Linked DNA regions of Homo sapiens: regions 2 and 3 are each linked to region 1. Evidence: fine-mapped expression QTL. A gene starts in region 1. Each other region holds a variant in brackets. All regions are shown on one strand. Distances are from middle to middle.

Evidence for each region.
Region 2: its variant is fine-mapped to the expression of MXRA8 in hippocampus (GTEx, PIP 0.95).
Region 3: its variant is fine-mapped to the expression of MXRA8 in whole blood (TOPMed, PIP above 0.99).

What each region holds. Positions count from the first base shown.
Region 1 is chr1:1,356,048-1,362,154 of GRCh38, reverse strand. MXRA8 (matrix remodeling associated 8) reads left to right here and starts at 3,600. Exons shown (of 10, transcript NM_032348.4): 1 at 3,600-3,699; 2 at 5,451-5,474. The coding sequence starts at 3,651. RefSeq lists a silencer at 3,467-3,586 and enhancers at 3,917-4,499, 5,087-5,639.
Region 2 is chr1:1,293,633-1,299,739 of GRCh38, reverse strand. ACAP3 (ArfGAP with coiled-coil, ankyrin repeat and PH domains 3) reads left to right here. Exons shown (of 24, transcript NM_030649.3): 10 at 384-395; 11 at 1,061-1,173; 12 at 1,319-1,370; 13 at 1,627-1,727; 14 at 1,807-1,918; 15 at 3,107-3,315; 16 at 3,460-3,529; 17 at 3,631-3,725; 18 at 3,802-4,004; 19 at 4,186-4,293; 20 at 4,924-5,022; 21 at 5,112-5,338; 22 at 5,541-5,650; 23 at 5,807-5,917; 1 more. It overlaps MIR6726 (microRNA 6726), which reads left to right and starts at 3,570; the gene lies at 3,570-3,630. RefSeq lists an enhancer at 1,621-2,557. The variant GC/C (reference allele first, on the strand shown) is at 2,945.
Region 3 is chr1:1,391,926-1,398,032 of GRCh38, reverse strand. CCNL2 (cyclin L2) reads left to right here. Exons shown (of 11, transcript NM_030937.6): 4 at 2,519-2,639; 5 at 4,573-4,637. Among named protein-coding and RNA genes, the nearest start is that of CCNL2, 4.4 kb to the left of the region's middle. RefSeq lists an enhancer at 4,571-5,071. The variant C/T (reference allele first, on the strand shown) is at 2,987.

The sequences.
Region 1 (6,107 bases):
CTCCTCGGGGCTGCAGGAGGAGGGACCAACACGAATGCAGGCCATGGCTGCCGGGGACGCTGGTCAGGATCAGCAGGAAAACAGTCAGCCAGGGACATGGCCGGGAACAGTCGCCACAAGCGGCTATAACGGATTAACACATTTTCTTTTGTTTTTGATAAACAAGTTTACTTGTAAATTTAGTCAGCATACATAACTAACCAAAACTTCAATATATCTTGAGACCCCCTTGGGGGGCTGTCTCCATAAAAGTGACTTTCCCAGGAGAGTGACTGGATGTGATTGGCCAACACCGTCTTAGCCCGCAGGGGTTCCTGGTGCCGAAGCCTCACGTCCCTCCCCACAGCGAGTTTTCAGAATCCAAAGGCCGTAGGAGAAAGAAGGCTGGCGGTGTTTCCTCTTAGAGGGGAGAAACTCAGCCTGGGTAGGAGACCCAGCCCCACGCAGGGAAAACTGTGCTAACGCTTCCGATGTGCGTGGCAGGTGCGGCGGCGGCGAATACGGTTTGTCCTCGAGCCTAACCCTGTCTGTGTTGGTGTCAGCAGTGGCCCCCCTACCACACACACAGGGTCCCTGGCGTCCCAAGACCACTCCTGGCAGCCCCGCCACTGGCTGCGCCTGGAAGCCGCGTCCTCAGGCCTCGCCTGGCATTTGCTGTCACAGAGGTTGCTTCCTTGGGTCCGTCCGTCCTCGCCCCTCCAGCCTGGGCGCCCCCCGACCCCTGTCTCATTCCCTCCACCACATGCAGCACAGTCCAGGAGGCTGGGGTCCAAGAGGGCCATGGCTGGCACCCGGCTTAGTGCTGAGTCCCCAGTGCCCAGCAAGCCTGGCACCCAGGAGGTGGTCAGCAAACGCTTCTGAACGACAGGAAGTGGGACTCTTCAGCCATCGATGATCCGCTGTGCGGCCACAGGTCCGTGTCTCTGTGTGTGTCTTTCCATGTGTGTCTGTGTGTGTCTCTGTTTCTGTGTGTGGACCTGTGTCTGTGTGTTTGTGTTTCCGTGTATCTTCTCTGTGTGTCCGTGTGTCTTCATGTGCATGCATGCGTGTCTCCATGTGTGTCGTGTGTGCGCATGTCTGTGTTCGTGTTTCCATGTATCTGTGTCTCCGTGTCTTCATGTGCATGCATGTGTATGTGTCTGTGTCTTCGCGTGTGTGCATGTGTCTGTGTTTCCGTGTATCTCTGTGTGTCTCCGTGTCTTCATGTGCATGCGTGTCTGTGTCTCCATGTGTCTTCGTGTGCATGCGTGTGTATCTCTGTGTGTCTCCATGTGTGTCTTTGTGTGTGTGTGCATGTGTCTGTGCACACTCATGGGAGTGAATATGGGCTTGGCTGTGCTGCTTGTGGCTCTGAGTGCCTGTGGTTTTTCTTCCCAATGAGACGGGCTGCCTGGAATGTCCGAGTCACCAGGAATGGCAGCCAAGATCAGATCCTCAGTGCGGGCCGTGGGGCCAGCTGACCCCTCTTGCTCCACCCCAACCCCCAGAGGTGGGGCTAGGAGGACGGTCCAGGGCGCTGGTTTGGCTGGGGGCTTAGCCAGAGCACAGTGATGCCAGTGGCTTTGTCCTGGTTTGTCCTCTTCCCAGAGGGAGAAAAATGCCAGGCCAGGCTGGGAATTAAGTCACACACCCACAGCTCTGCAGACCACCCCCCAGCGAGCAGAGGCTCCACAGTCCCAGCCCAGGAAGGTGCAGAAGAGGCACAGGTCACTGGCCCTGGGAGGAGCAGGTGACCTGGTCACTACCAGGCCTGCTCTTCTCTGTGGCTGTTTCCCACTGAGGGCCGGACAGGGAGGGTCAGGGAAGGGGCCTGATGGCCTCATCAGCCTTTTGTTCCTTGCCCAGGGCCCCATGGGGGTCAGCTGCCCCCAGGTGGCCCTCTCAGAGGTCAGGGCCCTCTCAGACGACAGCCTCTGGCCTGCATCTCCGCTGGCTGGGTCCCCGAAAGTGTGGCTGGAGGCCACTGCCCGGAGAGGGACGGCCCTGCAGAGTGAGGCGAGCCCTGGCCTGAGGCTGTCGTGCGGACCAGGCGCCCCTCTCAGCCCTGCACCCAGAGCCGGGCCCTCCCAGACCCGAGGGCCAACCCTGTCCCCCCACCAAACTGCTGTCCGTCCTCCCTCCATGGGGAGAGAGGGAACAGGGAGAGTGACGGAAGGAGACAGAGACTGCAGAGGCCAAGGCCCCAGAGTGTGCGACGGAGACAGACATGGGCGGGCGGGCAGCTGCCAGCACTAATACAAACCAGTTGGAAAAACAGGAGGAGAGGCCAGCAGAGGCCTCGAGGCCAGCCAGGTGGGGCTTGTTTTTCCAGAATGAAAGGCCCAGGGAGGGAGTGGGGGTGGCGGGATGTGTTCAGCCCTGAAGCCAGTTTGGAAAGGTCGCCGCCCGGGCCAGGACCCTGCTGAGGAAATGGGTCTGACCGGGCTGGGGTGGGGTGGGGTCTTCTGTCCTTACGCCGGTCCGTGTCCTGCCCGTTCCTCTCACTGGAGCAGCCGCAGGTTCCCCTCCCCTCGCCCTGAGACCACCACTCTGATCTGCACTGGGCTTCCCACTGTCTGAGGACTTGGGCACCAGAGCAGGGTTCAGGGGTGAGCCCCCCACCCAGCTGGGGCCCTCGGGGCCTGTAAGGAGAGCTCACTCCAAGTGGGCGGGCGGAACTATGCACTGAGGGTTTCTAGTGGTTGTGGTTGTTCAGATTGTTTTTTCTTGAGGTTTGCTTGATTAGAAGGAGTTGGGTTTGCTACACAGTGCAGGCTGTTATTTCGCATTTGTTTATGTGACTTTGTAAGTTTTCCCACAGTTTCAAATTTGTGCCTTCCATGGCAGGGGTCCCACTCTCCCCTTTCTCCAGGAGGCTTGTAATCCAGCACCTGGTTTCAGGGACACCAGGCTGCACCCTAAAGGCGGGCAGCCCCAGGGGACGGGGCCAGCAGGGAGAGGTCTGCTCACCCCAGCACCCCCAGGCCTCCCAGTGCTCAGGGTCCCCTGTCCCTGGCTGACTCTCCAGGTTGTAAAGGGGACTAGTGACTGGCAGCGTCCATCATCCTGGCCCAAGGGAGCCCACCGTGGCCCCCAGAGGAGACGGGTACCAAGGTCATGCAGGGCCAAGGGTTGGAGCTGGAAGGGCCATCTGGTCTGAAGGAGAGCACCAGCGTGCACCGTGGGTGGGGGCGGTCTCAGCGCTGGGAGGCCTTTCTGGGGCCTGGAGCAGACTGAGGGGAGGACCCTGCCCTGAGGTGGCTCACGTGGGGGGAGGCCAGAGGTGGGGCGGAGGGGCCACTCACCCAACAGTCCCAACCCTTCACCACAGGCCCGGGAGGCTCCTAGACGTGAGACACGATCACGTGGTATCAGGGGCCCATGTCCTCGGACCTTCTTGTCCCTCCAAGGGTGCGGTCACCACCCCTCCCCAGGCCTGACCGGTGAGGGGCTGGGCCTCTGCTCCCACACTGCCCCTCCCCAGCAGGCCAGCAACGATGGGGGAGGCCAAGGGGCCCGGCAGGAGCCAGAGGGGGCGGTCCCCAGACCGTAGACAGGCCCAGGCCTCCGTGATGTCACCGCGGGTGCTAAGGAGGGGGAGGGGGTAGGGCTGTTTTTCTGGAGAGAGACTTAGAGCCGAGTGGGACAAAGCCTGGGGCTGGGCGGGGGCCATGGCGCTGCCATCCCGAATCCTGCTTTGGAAACTTGTGCTTCTGCAGAGTGAGTGTGGGGCCCTGGGAGGCGGGTGGGGGGTGGCACGTGGGGCTGTGCGAGTCCGTTTCGGACAAAACCGCCCATCTGAGCTTGGGCCAGGAGGAGTGGGAAGGTCCCACCAGGGAAGAGGACGGGTCTGGGGGCGCTCGGGAGAGCCGCTTGCCAGAGGCTGTGACGTCTTCAGTTAGACTTTGGCCAGCCTCCCCTCCTAGGGAGTTGAAGCCCAGAGGGCCAAGAAGGGCTGGGGGCCCAGGCACGGCGGCGTCTCCCTCGGGGCCCCTCCTGCAGCCCCTCTTGCTGGGGCTCTGTTTAGGGAGTGGGTCAGTGATTGAAGGGGACCTGAGAACTGTGGGGTCTGTTCCAGCCCCCGCTCCCAGGCCTGGGCTGGCTGCTGACCGGGCACATTCCTCTGGGAAGCTCCCAGGCTCTCGGCCACATCTCTGGGGCAGTTTTCACATAGGATCTATGTGAGGGAGAGCAGCCCCCAGTGATCTAGAGACACAGGATAGAAACAGCTTTTATCACCCACGGGCCCTGGGGTGCACAGACTGCTGGGAGGCCAGGGAAAGTGGAGAGAGACAGGGACCCCCAGGCCAACCCTTTATTGGGATCAGGGCGTTCTGCATACAGGTTTCCCTCAGGGAATTTTTTTGGAGGCAGTTTCTCTCTCGCCAAGGAGGCTGCAGTGCAGTGGCGTGATCTCGGCTCACTGCAACCTCCACCTCCCGGGTTCAAGTCATTTTCTTGCCTCGGCCTCCCAAGTAGCTGGGACTATAGGCGCCCACTACCACCCCGTCCGGCTAATTTTTTGTATTTTTAGTACAGATGGGGTTTTTCATATTGGCCAGGCTGGTCTTGAATTCCTGACCTCAGGTGATCCACCTGCCTTGGCCTCCCAAAGTGCTGGGATTACAGGCGTGAGCCACCATGCCTGGTGGGGGAGTTTTAACTGGTGGGTTTAAGGCAAGCGGCACGAGCCCCGTGGGGCCACGCTGACTGTGGGGGGACTCCGTGGTGCAGCTGCACAGTCCATGTGGGGCGTGGGGTCTGTGGGGACACAGGGGGTGGTCACCAGGGGACAGTGCGTAGGGCGGGCGTCTGGGTGGATCAGCTCGAGGACGGGGGATGTGAATTGGAAACTGTCCCGGGTGGCAGCCCCGCTTCCGGTCAGAGAAAGTCCAGCCTAGATTCAGAGTGGATGCCGAGGCGGCCTACGACAATGAGAGTCCCTCAAGCAGCAACGCGGGCCTGTGGGGCGGCAGCCGGGGTCACGACCCACATTCAGCCTTCAGGCCTCTGCCCTGCGGAAGCACCTCAGGGGCTGCGCTGAGCCTTAGGTGTGGTGTGGGGTCCCCAGCGTCTGAGGGTCCAAGGACCCTCGGGGGCTGGGGCACAGCCCTGGAGGGAGCGTGGGGGAACCCACAGATCCAGCCTCCTTGGTGCTCTGGGTGACTTGGGTGCAGCCAGGTGGAGTGGCCCCGGTGACAAGCACACACCCCAGAACCGGCTGGCTTGGAGCCTGGCCCTGGCCCACGCCCATGCCCTGGCTTCCCCACTCAAGGGCAGGTGCCATCCAAAGCCCAGCACGGTGGCAGGGAGGGCTATGTAGGTCTGTGTGAGAGGCGTCCTCCCTGCACTGAAGTGGGTGTCACAGCATCCACTTTGGGACTACAGGAGGGACTCTGGGGGCCAAGTGGGGGGTCTCGGGGCTGGGTGGGGCTGTGGGTGGCCTCTCCAGCTCACTCCTCTCCTTCCAGGCTCTGCTGTTCTCCTGCACTCAGGTTAGTGACCCCAGCCCCAGCTGCCCACCCCCACTCCCCCTCAGCCCCTCCTATCTTGCCAGGCCCAGCCCCCGGGGGTCCTCAGGCCCTGCCCCTCCCCCACTGATTCCCCCTTGCTCATCAGGACCCTTGGGCACCTCCCCTTGCCAATAACTCCCCCTCCCCCAATGACTCCTCTTCCCCTACCAGGGCCCTTGGGGGCCTGGCCCTCCCCCACAGACTCCCGCACACCCACCAGGGCCCTCGGGGGCCCACCCCTCCCCCACAGATGCCCCCACTGACTCCCCTTCCCCAACCAGGGCCTTCGGGGTCTGCCCCTCCCCTACTGAGTCCCCTTCCCCACCAGGGCCCTCGGGGCCCACCACTCCCCCATGGACTCCCCATCCCCCACTAGGGTCCTTGGGCCCCATGTCTCCCCGACTGACTTGCCCTCCCCCATGGACTCCCCCTCCCCTGCCAGGGCCCTCGGGGGTCCACCACTCCCCCAATGATTCCCCTTCCCCCACATGGGCCCTAGGGGGCATGCCCCTCCCCCATGGAATCTCCCCCACCACGAGGGGCCTCAGGGGCCCACACCCCCCCAAAGATGCCCCCAACCCCGCCAGAGTCCTTGGGGCACACCCCTCCCCCAGT
Region 2 (6,107 bases), 62 kb after region 1:
CTCCTGCCTGTCTCCCACCTGCCCTGCCCACACCCTCTCTAGGGGACCAAGGCTGCTCCCTTTGATGTGTGCAGTGGAGGGGCACGTGTGGGTGGGGCCGCTGCTGGGATCTCCTTTTGAGGCGGTGGTCACCTCTGTGGCCTCAGTCACTGGCTCCTTGCGGGGCCTTTGCTTGCCTGTGGGACAGCAGCCCCGGCCACCATCCCGGGCAGAGGTTGGCTGCAGGCAGGAGTGGCTATTTTGGGATAGGGGAGAGCCCCCCAGGAGTTGGGGACGGGTCCACCAGTCACCAGGAGTTGGGGACGGGTCCACCAGTCACCAGGAGTTGGCAGCCGTCACTCACTGGCTTTCTCCCCCTACCCCCTCCTGCTCCGGCCCTCCAGACGCTGCTGCAGGTAAGTGAGCACGGGCCCTGGGCGGGCTGTGGGTCGGGGGAGACCAGATGGGGCGGTGCCTTTCCCTCCTCTACCCCAAGGGCACTTCAGCACCAAGGACACCTCCCACCAGTCTCGGCTCCTGCTGCTGATGCGGCTGTGAGGGGCTGGCTCCGGCCAGACCTCCACATTCCCCGTGGGGTTGGCGGCAGCTGTCCCTTCCCATCCCATGTGGCCTGGGGAGCAGGTGGCCGCCCCTCCCCTCTGCTTCCCTGGCCTGCCAGATGGCGGGACACACAGGGCCCTCAGTGACTCCCAGGCCTCCTGAATGGGGCTCTGTCCGCCCAGCTGGCCACATGAATGGGGCACTCAGGATGCGGAGGGTGGGGGCGCAGCTTCCTTCCTGATCGCAGCCTGCTGGTCCCTGCAGGGCTGGGGTGGGGCCGGCACTCTCGGGCCCCCAGCTGTGAACGTGAGGGGTCTGCCCCACGGGTTGCAGGGCTGGGGGCCTTGCTCAGGTCAAGAAGTGGCTGTGGTGAACAGAGGGTCTCTCGTCTGAGCGTGTGGTCCGTGGGCCGTGTGGCAGCCTCAGACAAGGACCTCACCCCCACCTGTGCTCCGGGAAAGCACGGAGGGTAGCAGGGCCCCTGGGGTGGGCACTGAGGGGGCGGGTTCCATCCCCCCAGGACTTCTCCTACGATGAGTCCAAAGTGGAGTTTGACGTGGACGCGCCCAGTGGGGTGGTGATGGAGGGCTACCTCTTCAAGAGGGCCAGCAACGCTTTCAAGACATGGAACCGGTGAGAGGCCTTCCTCAGGTGGGGGCGGGGTCCTTAGGCGGGGGTGGGGTCCTCAGGCGGGGGTGGGGTCCTCAGGTGGGGGCAGGGGTCACAGCAGCCCTGGGATGGGCCCCGCCTGACTCCCCACATCCCCCCACCCACCTAGGCGCTGGTTCTCCATTCAGAACAGCCAGCTGGTCTACCAGAAGAAGCTCAAGGTGTGCCCTGGGCCTGGGGCTGGGGCCCTGATGGCTGGACGCCCCACCTGGGCCACAGGGCAGACTGGTCAGTTGGGGTTAGCACAGGGCCGGGGCACTAGTGGACGCCGGAGCCGGAACAGTCAGGGAGCAGAGAGCTGGACACGGGGCTTGGGGCTCAGGCAGTCGGCCTCCGGGTCTCCAAGGTGAAGCAGGAAGTGGGTGGTCGGGGCCGGGTGGTGGCTGAGGGCAGGGGCCACAGCGGTGCCGCCCACAGGATGCCCTCACCGTGGTGGTGGATGACCTCCGCCTGTGCTCTGTGAAGCCGTGTGAGGACATCGAGCGGAGGTTCTGCTTCGAGGTGCTGTCACCCACCAAGTGAGGAGGCCCAGCCCAGGGTGGGGCGGGGGGCGTACCTGCCCACCGGAGCTGACGCCCGCCCCTCCACTGCCTGCAGGAGCTGCATGCTGCAGGCTGACTCCGAGAAGCTGCGGCAAGCCTGGGTCCAGGCTGTGCAGGCCAGCATCGCCTCCGCCTACCGCGAGAGCCCTGACAGTTGCTATAGCGAGGTGTGGCCCTTGGTGCCCCTGCCCCAAGCCCGTGCACACACACGTGCCACCGGGGATGGCCCCTGCCCCGCGCCTGTGCACACACACACGTGCCACCGGGGATGGCCCCTGCCCCGTGCCCGTGCACACGTGCCACCGGGGATGGCCCCTGCCCCGCGCCTGTGCACACACACACGTGCCACTGGGGATGGCCCCTGCCCCGTGCCTGTGCACACACACACGTGCCACCGGGGATGGCCCCTGCCCCAAGCCCGTGCACACACACACGTGCCACCGGGGATGGCCCCTGCCCCGCGCCTGTGCACACACACACGTGCCACCGGGGATGGCCCCTGCCCCAAGCCCGTGCACACATGTGCCACCGGGGATGGCCCCTGCCCCGCGCCTGTGCACACACACACGTGCCACTGGGGATGGCCCCTGCCCCGTGCCTGTGCACACACACACGTGCCACCGGGGATGGCCCCTGCCCCAAGCCCGTGCACACACACACGTGCCACCGGGGATGGCCCCTGCCCCGCGCCTGTGCACACACACACGTGCCACCGGGGATGGCCCCTGCCCCAAGCCCGTGCACACATGTGCCACCGGGGATGGCCCCTGCCCCGCGCCTGTGCACACACACACGTGCCACTGGGGATGGCCCCTGCCCCGCGCCTGTGCACACACACACGTGCCACTGGGGATGGCCCCTGCCCCGTGCCGGTGCACACACCTACGTGCCACTGGGGATGGCCCCTGCCCCACACACGTGCACACGCCTGTGTGTGGCTCCTGCAAGCTGGGTGTGTGCTGGTGTGCACTGGCATGCTGGCTTGTGCAGTGTGGATGTGCATGTGTGTGCAGGTACCATCTGCCCATGTGAGGGTGTGCACGTATACACGCGCGTGTGGGAGTGTGCTCGGCACCATCTGCCCACGTGAGGGTGTGCACACGTACGTGCGTGTGCGGGCGTGTGCTCGGCGCCACCTGTCCACGTGAGGGTGTGCGCGTGTGTGCGTGTGCGGGCGTGTGCTCGAGGGGGGG[GC/C]CATCTGCCCACGTGAGGGTGTGCGCGTGTACGTGCGTGTGCGGGCGTGTGCTCGAGGGGCCCTGGCCTGCATTGGCTCTTCTGGCTGGGGAGGAGGGGGCCTGCTGGGGAAACCATGCTGGAGCCCCTGCGGGACCGAGCAGCTCCACCCCATCCTCCAGAGGCTGGACCGCACAGCATCCCCGTCCACGAGCAGCATCGACTCCGCCACCGACACTCGGGAGCGTGGCGTGAAGGGCGAGAGTGTGCTGCAGCGTGTGCAGAGTGTGGCCGGCAACAGCCAGTGCGGCGACTGCGGCCAGCCGGACCCCCGCTGGGCCAGCATCAACCTGGGCGTGCTGCTCTGCATTGAGTGCTCCGGCATCCACAGGTGGGCCCCTGAGGGCCAGGCTGGGGGTGGGGGTTGGGCTGGAGCATCCACAGGTGGGCCCCTGAGGGCCAGGCCGGGGGTGGGGGTTGGGCCGGAGCTGGGGGCCTTGCCTCCCCCAGACTCATCCCTACCTCTGCTCTCCAGGAGCCTGGGTGTCCACTGCTCCAAGGTGCGGTCCCTGACGCTGGACTCGTGGGAGCCTGAGCTGCTAAAGGTGCGTGTGGGGCTCCTGGAGGCCACGGGACCCCGTTTGTGGGGGCGGGAGCTGGGGTCTGCAGGTTCGCACTGATGCCTGCTCGCCCTGTCTCCCGCTAGCTGATGTGTGAGCTTGGAAACAGCGCTGTGAATCAGATCTATGAGGCCCAGTGTGAGGGTGCAGGCAGCAGGAAACCCACAGCCAGCAGCTCCCGGTGAGGTGGGGTACAGTCTGGATCAGTCAGGGAGCCCCAGCCTGGGGGCACAGCCTCATGTTCCCCCCTGGTCCAGGCAGGACAAGGAGGCCTGGATCAAGGACAAATACGTGGAAAAGAAGTTTCTGCGGAAGGCGCCCATGGCACCAGCCCTGGAGGCCCCAAGACGCTGGAGGGTGCAGAAGTGCCTGCGGCCCCACAGCTCTCCCCGCGCTCCCACTGCCCGCCGCAAGGTCCGGCTTGAGCCCGTTCTGCCCTGTGTGGCCGCTCTGTCCTCAGGTGGGAGGCCATGCCCCGGCAGGGCTGGGAGGGGCTTGCCTTGGTCGGGGATGGACTCCGTCAAGGGGCTGGTGGCAGGGCTCTGGGGGCACCTCAGGCTCCGCAGACTCCCGGCGTGACCTGGGGTTCCCTGCCCCACCCCGGGCCTGTTCCACACTCTGAACACGCACTGCCCCTGCAGTGGGCACCCTGGATCGTAAGTTCCGCCGAGACTCCCTCTTCTGTCCCGACGAGCTGGACTCGCTCTTCTCCTACTTCGACGCAGGGGCCGCAGGGGCTGGCCCTCGCAGTAAGTGTGGGGTGGGCCCAGCCAGGTGGCAGGGCAGGGCCAAGGAGGCTGGCCTGAAGGGTGCCTGAGTGTGGATGGCCCTTGCCAGGGAATGGAGCAGCATCTGAAGGGGCGGGGGGCCTCCTGGCCACACAGCTGGAGGCCAAGGCCCTGACTGTCAGGGGTGAGCTGTGCAAATGTGTGTGTGGGCTGTGTGCACCTGGGTGTGTGCACACAGCGGGTGGCCCGGGGTGCTGGGGAAGCAGAGGGCGCTGCCAGCCGGCCCTCAGCCTAGGGCCCTTCTGGAGCCATGCTGCCCGTTGGTTGGGTGGAGACATTTCAGCCTGGGCCAGCCACAGACGGGGCTGGGGGGCCCACTGCGGGGGGTGCCGGGTAAGGCGGCGAGCGGGAGGGAAGGGCTTCCCAAAAGGCCTGGGCTTTAGGGGGCTACCCCTGGCACCTTTGAGCTGTTATTTGGTTTTCTCTCCTTTGCTCCTAGCCTGCAGCTGGCTCCCCCCGGCCCTGGGTGGGAGCTGGTCCTGTCCCTAGGGGTGGCCCCTGGAGGGTGGGTGGAGTTCCAGCCTTGCCCCAGGGCTCTGGACGGAGTCTGGGCCTCCCACCCTCAGGACCCCCTTCCCTGCGGACCTGCAGGTCTGAGTAGCGACAGTGGCCTTGGGGGCAGCTCGGATGGCAGCTCGGACGTCCTGGCTTTCGGCTCGGGCTCTGTGGTGGACAGCGTCACTGAGGAGGGTGGGTGGCGTCTTGCCCTCGCCCGAGGCCCCTGCCCAGCCCCTGGGCAGCCCCGGGGGTTGCTTTCCCTGACCGCCCCCTCCCCACAGAGGGTGCAGAGTCGGAGGAGTCCAGCGGTGAGGCAGACGGGGACACTGAGGCCGAGGCCTGGGGCCTGGCGGACGTGCGCGAGCTGCACCCGGGGCTCTTGGCGCACCGCGCAGCGCGTGCCCGCGACCTTCCTGCGCTGGCGGCGGCGCTGGCCCACGGGGCCGAGGTCAACTGGGCGGACGCGGAGGATGAGGGCAAGACGCCGCTGGTGCAGGCCGTGCTAGGGGTGAGCGAGCCACGGGGGCTGCGCGCAGGACACAGGTGCACAGTCGCGTTTGCATCTTCTGTGGCGCCCACACAAGGGTCGCCTGTCCGCGGTGGGGACCACGTTCGGTCCCGGCTGGGGGCGCCCAAGGCCGGGGTCAGGGTGCAGAGGCGCGGAGAGGGGCCGGTGCCGTGGCTCCGTCTGAGTTGCCCCGGCTCCCCAGGGCTCCTTGATCGTCTGTGAGTTCCTGCTGCAAAACGGAGCGGACGTGAACCAAAGAGACAGCCGGGGCCGGGCGCCCCTGCACCACGCCACGCTGCTGGGCCGCACCGGGTGAGACGCGCAACCCACGCCCCGCCCTGTGCCCCGACCACGCCTACCCCGGCCCGGCTACGCCCTGTCCGCCATGCCCTATCCGGCCACGCCCCCGCGACCACACTCGCCCCGCCCCGCCCCGCCCCGACACGCCCCTCCGACCTCGCCCCTCAGCCAGGTTTGCCTGTTCCTGAAGCGGGGCGCGGACCAGCACGCCCTGGACCAAGAGCAGCGGGACCCGTTGGCCATCGCAGTGCAGGCGGCCAACGCTGACATCGTGACACTGTGAGCGCGGCCGGGCCCTCGGGGCTGGGCGGGGCCTCCAGGGCAGGGGCGGGGCCTCCAGGGCAGGGGCGGGGCCTCCAGGGCAGGGGCGTCTCACGCTGTGCCTCCCCGTAGGCTCCGTCTGGCGCGCATGGCGGAGGAAATGCGCGAGGCCGAGGCTGCCCCTGGTCCCCCGGGCGCCCTGGCGGGC
Region 3 (6,107 bases), 36 kb before region 1:
GTGAGGACAGTGCGCTGTGGCGGGTCGCGCTGGGGCTGGCTTCCTGCTTTACCCATGTCAGTGCACGGCCCTGCTGCTGCTTCTGTCCCACAAGTTTCTGAGTGCTCTGGAGCAGGGAATCTTAATCTCAGCACTATTGACATTCAGGCTGGATAATCTTTTTTTTCCTCCTGAGACAGGTTTCCTGTTGTCCAGGGCAGAGTGCGGTGGTATGATCATGGCTCACTACAGCCTCAACCTCCTAGGCTCAAGAGTTTCTCCTGCCTCAGCCTCCTGAGTAGCTGGGACTATAGGAGCACGCCAACCATGCCAGCTAATTTTTATTTTTTATTTGGTAAAGATGGGGTCATGCTGTGTTGCCCAGGCTGGTCTCAAATTCCTGGGCTCCAAGGATTTGCTGGCCTTAGCCTCCCAAAGCACTGGGATTACAGATTTCAGCCACCGCATCTGGCTGGGTAATCTTTAGTTGTAGGGGATTCTCCTGTGTGCTGCAGGATTCAGCAACATCCCTGGTCTCGACTCACTGGATGACAGGAGTACCCCACCTTAGATGTGACAGCCAGAAATTCTCTCATACCAGATGTGGGAGCTCACACCTGTCATCTCAGCACTTGGGAGACTGAAAAAGGAGGTTTGCTTGAGGCCAGGAGATTGAGGCTGCAGTGAGCTGTGATGTCACCACTGCACTCCAGCCTGGACAACAGGGTGAGGCCCTGTTTCCAAAAAAAACGAAAGTCTGTTGATGTTGCTTCATGGCCCTGGAATAGTAAAATTTCTCCAGCAGAGAACCGCTGCCTCTGACCTTAGCCCAGGGTTTATGCACCTGAAGTTAATTGAAGTCCTTTAGAAAACACAGCCTCTGGCCGGGCTGGCCTGTAATCCCAGCACGTTGGGAGGCCTAGGCAGGTGGATCACCTAAGGTCAGGAGTTCGAGACCAGCCTAACCAATATGGTGAAACCCTGTCCCTATTAAGAACACAAAAATTGGCCAGGTGCAGTGGCTCACGCCTGTAATCCCAGCACTTTGGGAGGCCGAGGCGGGTGGATCACGAGGTCAGGAGATCGAGACCATCCTGGCTAACACGGTGAAACCCCGTCTACTAAAAATACAAAAAAGTTAGCCAGGCGTGGTGGCGGGTGCCTGTGGTCCCAGCTACTTGGGAGGCTGAGGCAGGAGAATGGCGTGAACCCGGGAGGTGGAGCTTGCAGTGAGCTGAGATCGGGCCACTGCACTCCAGCCTGGGCGACAGAGCAAGACTCCGTCTCAAAAAAAAATAAAAAAAAAATTAGCCGGGTGTGGTTGCGGGTGCCTGTAATCCCAGCTATTCGGGAGGGTGAGGCAGGAGAATCGCTGGAACCGGGGAGTTAGAGGTGCAGTGAGCTGAGATTGTGCCATTGCACTCCAGCCTGGGCAACAAAAGTGAAACTCTGTCTCAAAAAAAAAAAAAAAAAAAAAAAAAACAGCCTTGCCGAGCGCAGTGGCTCACGCCTATAGTCCCAGCACTTTGGGAGGCCAAGGCGGGTGGATCATCTGAGGTCGGGAGTTCGAGACCAGCCTGACCAACATGTAGAAACCCCATCTCTACTACAAATATAAAATTAGCTGGTCGTGGTGGTGCATGCCTGTAATACCAGCTACTTGGGAGGCTGAGGCAGGAGAATTGCTTGAACCTGGGAGGTGGAGGTTATAGTGAGCCAAGAGCGCGCCACTGCACTCCAGCCTGGGCAACAGAGTGAGACTCCATCTCAAAAAAAGAAAAAACATGGCCTCATCGGCCTCCCAAAGTGCTGGGGTTACAGGTGTGAGCCACTGCACCCAGCCCTTTTTTTTTTTTTTTTTTTCTGAGACGGACTCTCACTGTGTCTCACCGTGTCACCCAGGCTGGAGTGCAGTGATGCGATCTCGGCTCACTGAAACCTCCGCCTCCTGGGTTCAAGTGAATCTCCTGCCTCAGCCTCCTGAGTAGCTGGGATTACAAGCACCCGCCACCACGCCCGGCTAATTTTTGCATTTTTTTAGTAGAGACAGGGTTTCACCATGTTGGTCAGACTGGTCTTGAACTCCTGAGCTCAGGCAGTCTGCCTGCCTCGCCTCCCAAAGTGCTGGGATTACAGGCAGAGCCACTGCACCTGGCCCATCTGTATTTAAATAATTGTGCTTTCATTGGTTCTGTGGTTATTGAACTGTGAATATGTACCTTCCTATCGTGAGTCACATAAAGTGCTTTAGCATTTGTGCCACGAGATCCTAAAACTTGCTATGTTCGGTCTATGCTTGTGCACCAGAAGCTGTTGATCTATAAGGAAAAGCAGGGAGGGATCGTTGGGAAGGGATGAGGAGGTTGGCACTGGGCTGTGGGGAGCGGTGTGCAGTTTTGTTCATCAGAGGATGTGGACTTCATAGCGATGTTGTGTTGTGGGGTTTGTGTTAGGTGCTCATAGTTGGAGGTAACGACGGGATCTCAGAAGCCTTGCTCTGCTTGACTGTGGTGCAGACCCTGTGCTCTCTCTCTGGCAGGAAGCCCGTGCCTCTACTACTGGATCAAGATTATGTTAATTTAAAGAACCAAATTATAAAGGCGGAAAGACGAGTTCTCAAAGAGTTGGGTTTCTGCGTCCATGTGAAGCATCCTCATAAGGTGGGTGTGCGGCTCCTGCCCTGCGAGCCCGCCTAGGCCGCTGCTCCTGCCTGGCCGCCTCTCTCCACCTCAGTGCAGTTGAAGGCTCTGAAGAGGACTGAGTGCATCCCTGACTTGGCTTTCCAGTTTCTATTTATAATCTCAAGAATAGTTCCTGACGTATTCGTCTTCTAGTGTCAGCTGTTTATTTTAGTAACACATTTTTAAGTGTTTTGGAAATGGTATTATTTAAGTTTGGGCTTTCAAAAATAGTGGTGAGTTTATAAATGTTGAATTTTAGTTTATGTTTTCCTTTCTCTACAGTTAATTTTTTTTTGTTTTCTTTTTTTTTGAGATGGAGTTTCGCT[C/T]TATCGCCAGGCTGGAGTGCAGTGGCATGGTGGCAGTGGCAGTGGAGGCACAACCTCCACCTCCCGGCTTCAAGCCATTCTCCTGCCTCAGCCTCCTGAGTAGCTGGCACTACAGGCACGTGCCACCACGCCGAGCTGATTTTTGTATTTTTAGTAGAGACGGGGTTTCACCATGTTGGCCAGAATGGTCTTCATCTCTTGCCCTCGTGATCCTCCCACCTTGGCCTCCCAAAGTGCTGGGATTACAGGCATAAGCCACTGTGCCTGGCCTTTTTTTTTTTTTTTTTTTTTTTTCTTGAGACGGAGTCTTACTCTGTCATGCAGGCTGGAGTGCAGTGGTGCAATCTTGGCTCACTGCAACCTCTGCCTCCCAGGTTCAAGTGATTCTTGTGCCTCAGCCTCCCAAGTAGCTGGGATTACAGGCATGCGCCACCACACCTGGGTAATTTTTGTATCTTTAGTAGAGATGGGGTTTCGTCATGTTGGCCGGGCTGGTCTCAAACTCCTGATCTCAGGTGATGCACCTGCCTCGGCCTCCCAAAGTTCTGGGATTACAAGTGTGAGCCACTGCACCCAGCCTCAACAGTTAATTTTCTACATTTGCTTTAGTGATAGCTTTACTTTCTCTTATGGAGAAATTAGGGGAATTCTGGCCCCTTTAGTCTGAAATGACTGGCGAGTTTTGCGGCATGTACTGACTGAGGACCATGGCCGTGACACGGTCCCTCACTCCCAGCGTTGTGGGTGCCTTCTGTGTCACATGGAAACAAAGCACTTGTTTTCCCAAAAAATTGTTTCCATCTTTGGTTCCATCTCCTTTTTATTGGTGGGTTTCCTCATCTGCTTGTTCGGCTTTCTGCCATCTGTTCAAATTATCCACAAATTGCCCACCACAGATTGAAGTGCTTTTTTTTTTTTTTTGGAGACGGAATCTCGCTCTGTTGTCCAGGCTGGAGTGCAATGGCGCAACCTCAGCTCATGCAGCCTCCGCCTCCTGGTTTCAAGCGATTCTCCTGCCTCAGCCTCCTGAGTACCTGGGATTACAGGCGTGCACCACCATGCCTGACTAATTTTGTATTTTTAGTAGAGACTGGGTTTCTCCATATTGGTCAGGCTGTTCTCGAACTCCTGACCTCAGGTGATCTGCCCGCCTCAGCCTCCCAAAGTGCTGGGATTATAGGCATGAGCCAGTGTGCCTGGCCTGAAGTGTTCTTCTCTGTTTGCTGAAAGTATGTTCATATTGTGTTTTGGTGAGTTGTTAACTGGGATACAGAGACGTGTAGGACAGGCCAACCTCACTGGTGGAAAGGCATTGAAGACTAGAATGAAACCAGCCCCATGAAGAACGAGGCCTGTGCCGTGGGTTGTGTGGCTGGGCTCACGGGCATGCGTCCTGCCTGGCTGCCAAGGCAGACAGCAGGTGCAATCGCAAAGCTCCCTCCAGCTGAGCCGTCCGCCAGACGTGTGGCCAGGAGCCACTCCTGGGATCTAGCTTGAGGCTCTTGTTTGCTGCATGGACACCCACAAGATCTGAATTCTGGGCTCTTAAGGTTCTTGGTAATAACTGCCTGACCCGTATCTTCCAGATAATCGTTATGTACCTTCAGGTGTTAGAGTGTGAGCGTAACCAACACCTGGTCCAGACCTCATGGTGAGTTGAGCTTCCTTGTTTTATGAGACCAGCAAGGGCAGTGCAGGAATGTGTTGACTTGAGGCACTTGGGCAGTGGGTAGGCAGCCCAGTGACTTGGTTGTGGGCTGGAGTTGTCCGAGTGCCCAGTGCTCCTGCTGTATAAATTCCAATCAGACTCCCAAAATGGGCACTGGCAGTCACGGTAGGTGGCCCGTCCCCTCCCTGCAAGCCTGGACTTCCTGTGTCCCCCACCCTGAAGAGAGCAGTCAGTGGGCTTCCTCTGGGAGCTGTTGACTTGGCGCAGGGGGACCTTTTCCTGGGGAGGGTGGAGGGACAGGCTAGTGCAGACTTGGTCTGTTTCTCCACTGACATTGCATCCCATGGGAGAGGGGCAGAGAAGGTTCTGGGGCCGATTTTAGCAATGCATGTGCTAGAAAGGAACCCTAAAGTGCAATGTAGTATTTGGGGGATTCTGGGGATTCTGGTGAATTTTTTCCCATGGAGTTAAGTCTGTAAGGGTCATATTTTTGCTGACTGAATTGTCTGGTGCTATGACATGTTTAATAGAGAACCTATTTTGACTTTTCTTTTCTGTACTCTTTCAATCAAAGGGTAGCCTCTGAGGGTAAGTGACTAAGACTTCTCCTCTGCTGTCCAAGCGCTTTGGTGCAGGGACAGCGGCATCTTCAGCCAATCCAGTGCAGGCTCTCCACCGAAGGCTGGCTCTAGACTGGTGGTACGCACATAGCATAGCCATGGCCGACTCCTGCTGTGGTTCTCTGACGATTGTGCTTCTTGTTAATCCTCTGTCGTGCTTTGGTAATCGTATTGATTAGAGTTGGTAACTGTCTTGACTTGAATTTTGTCCCTTTAAAACTGCTGTACCTGTATGATAAAGATGCAGTACCTTTCTCTTAAAAAAAAATGCTATGGAAAGCTGTGAGAATTGAAGAGACAAATTGGCTGTGTCAGTGTGGGGTTATGTCATGATTTCTAGAAGCCCTGAAGTTGCTCTTTTGAGCAGCTTTGCATGACACGCTCTGGTAAAAGGTGTGCATCTTTAAATTATTTCATGGATACTTTGAAAAATATTGTATCACTTCAAATACAGCAATAAGTTTATATGTTCTCAAGATTTCATTTGTTTTTAAGAATTTTAAGTTCGTGGATTAATATCACTACTTGAATACTGACAGTTGTTGATTAGACACCGAAAGGTTACTGATTGTTGAATGTATCTGTGTTAGAGCTGTGCACTGGCACGCTTGCATCAGGGGCTGGGGCCACACGGCCGCCACACAGATTCCCCCGTGATGCCTGGAGCTGCTTCCAGAGCCGGGTGTCTCCAAGAGGCACCTGTAGGACTTCCCATTTAGAAATCTCTTGAGTGGGTTTGTATGTTACCTTCTCCAAGGTTTATTTAGGACAGAGATATTGCTGGAAGGTCATGGGTCAGATTCCCTCACAACCCACCTCGTCTGCGGGTGCA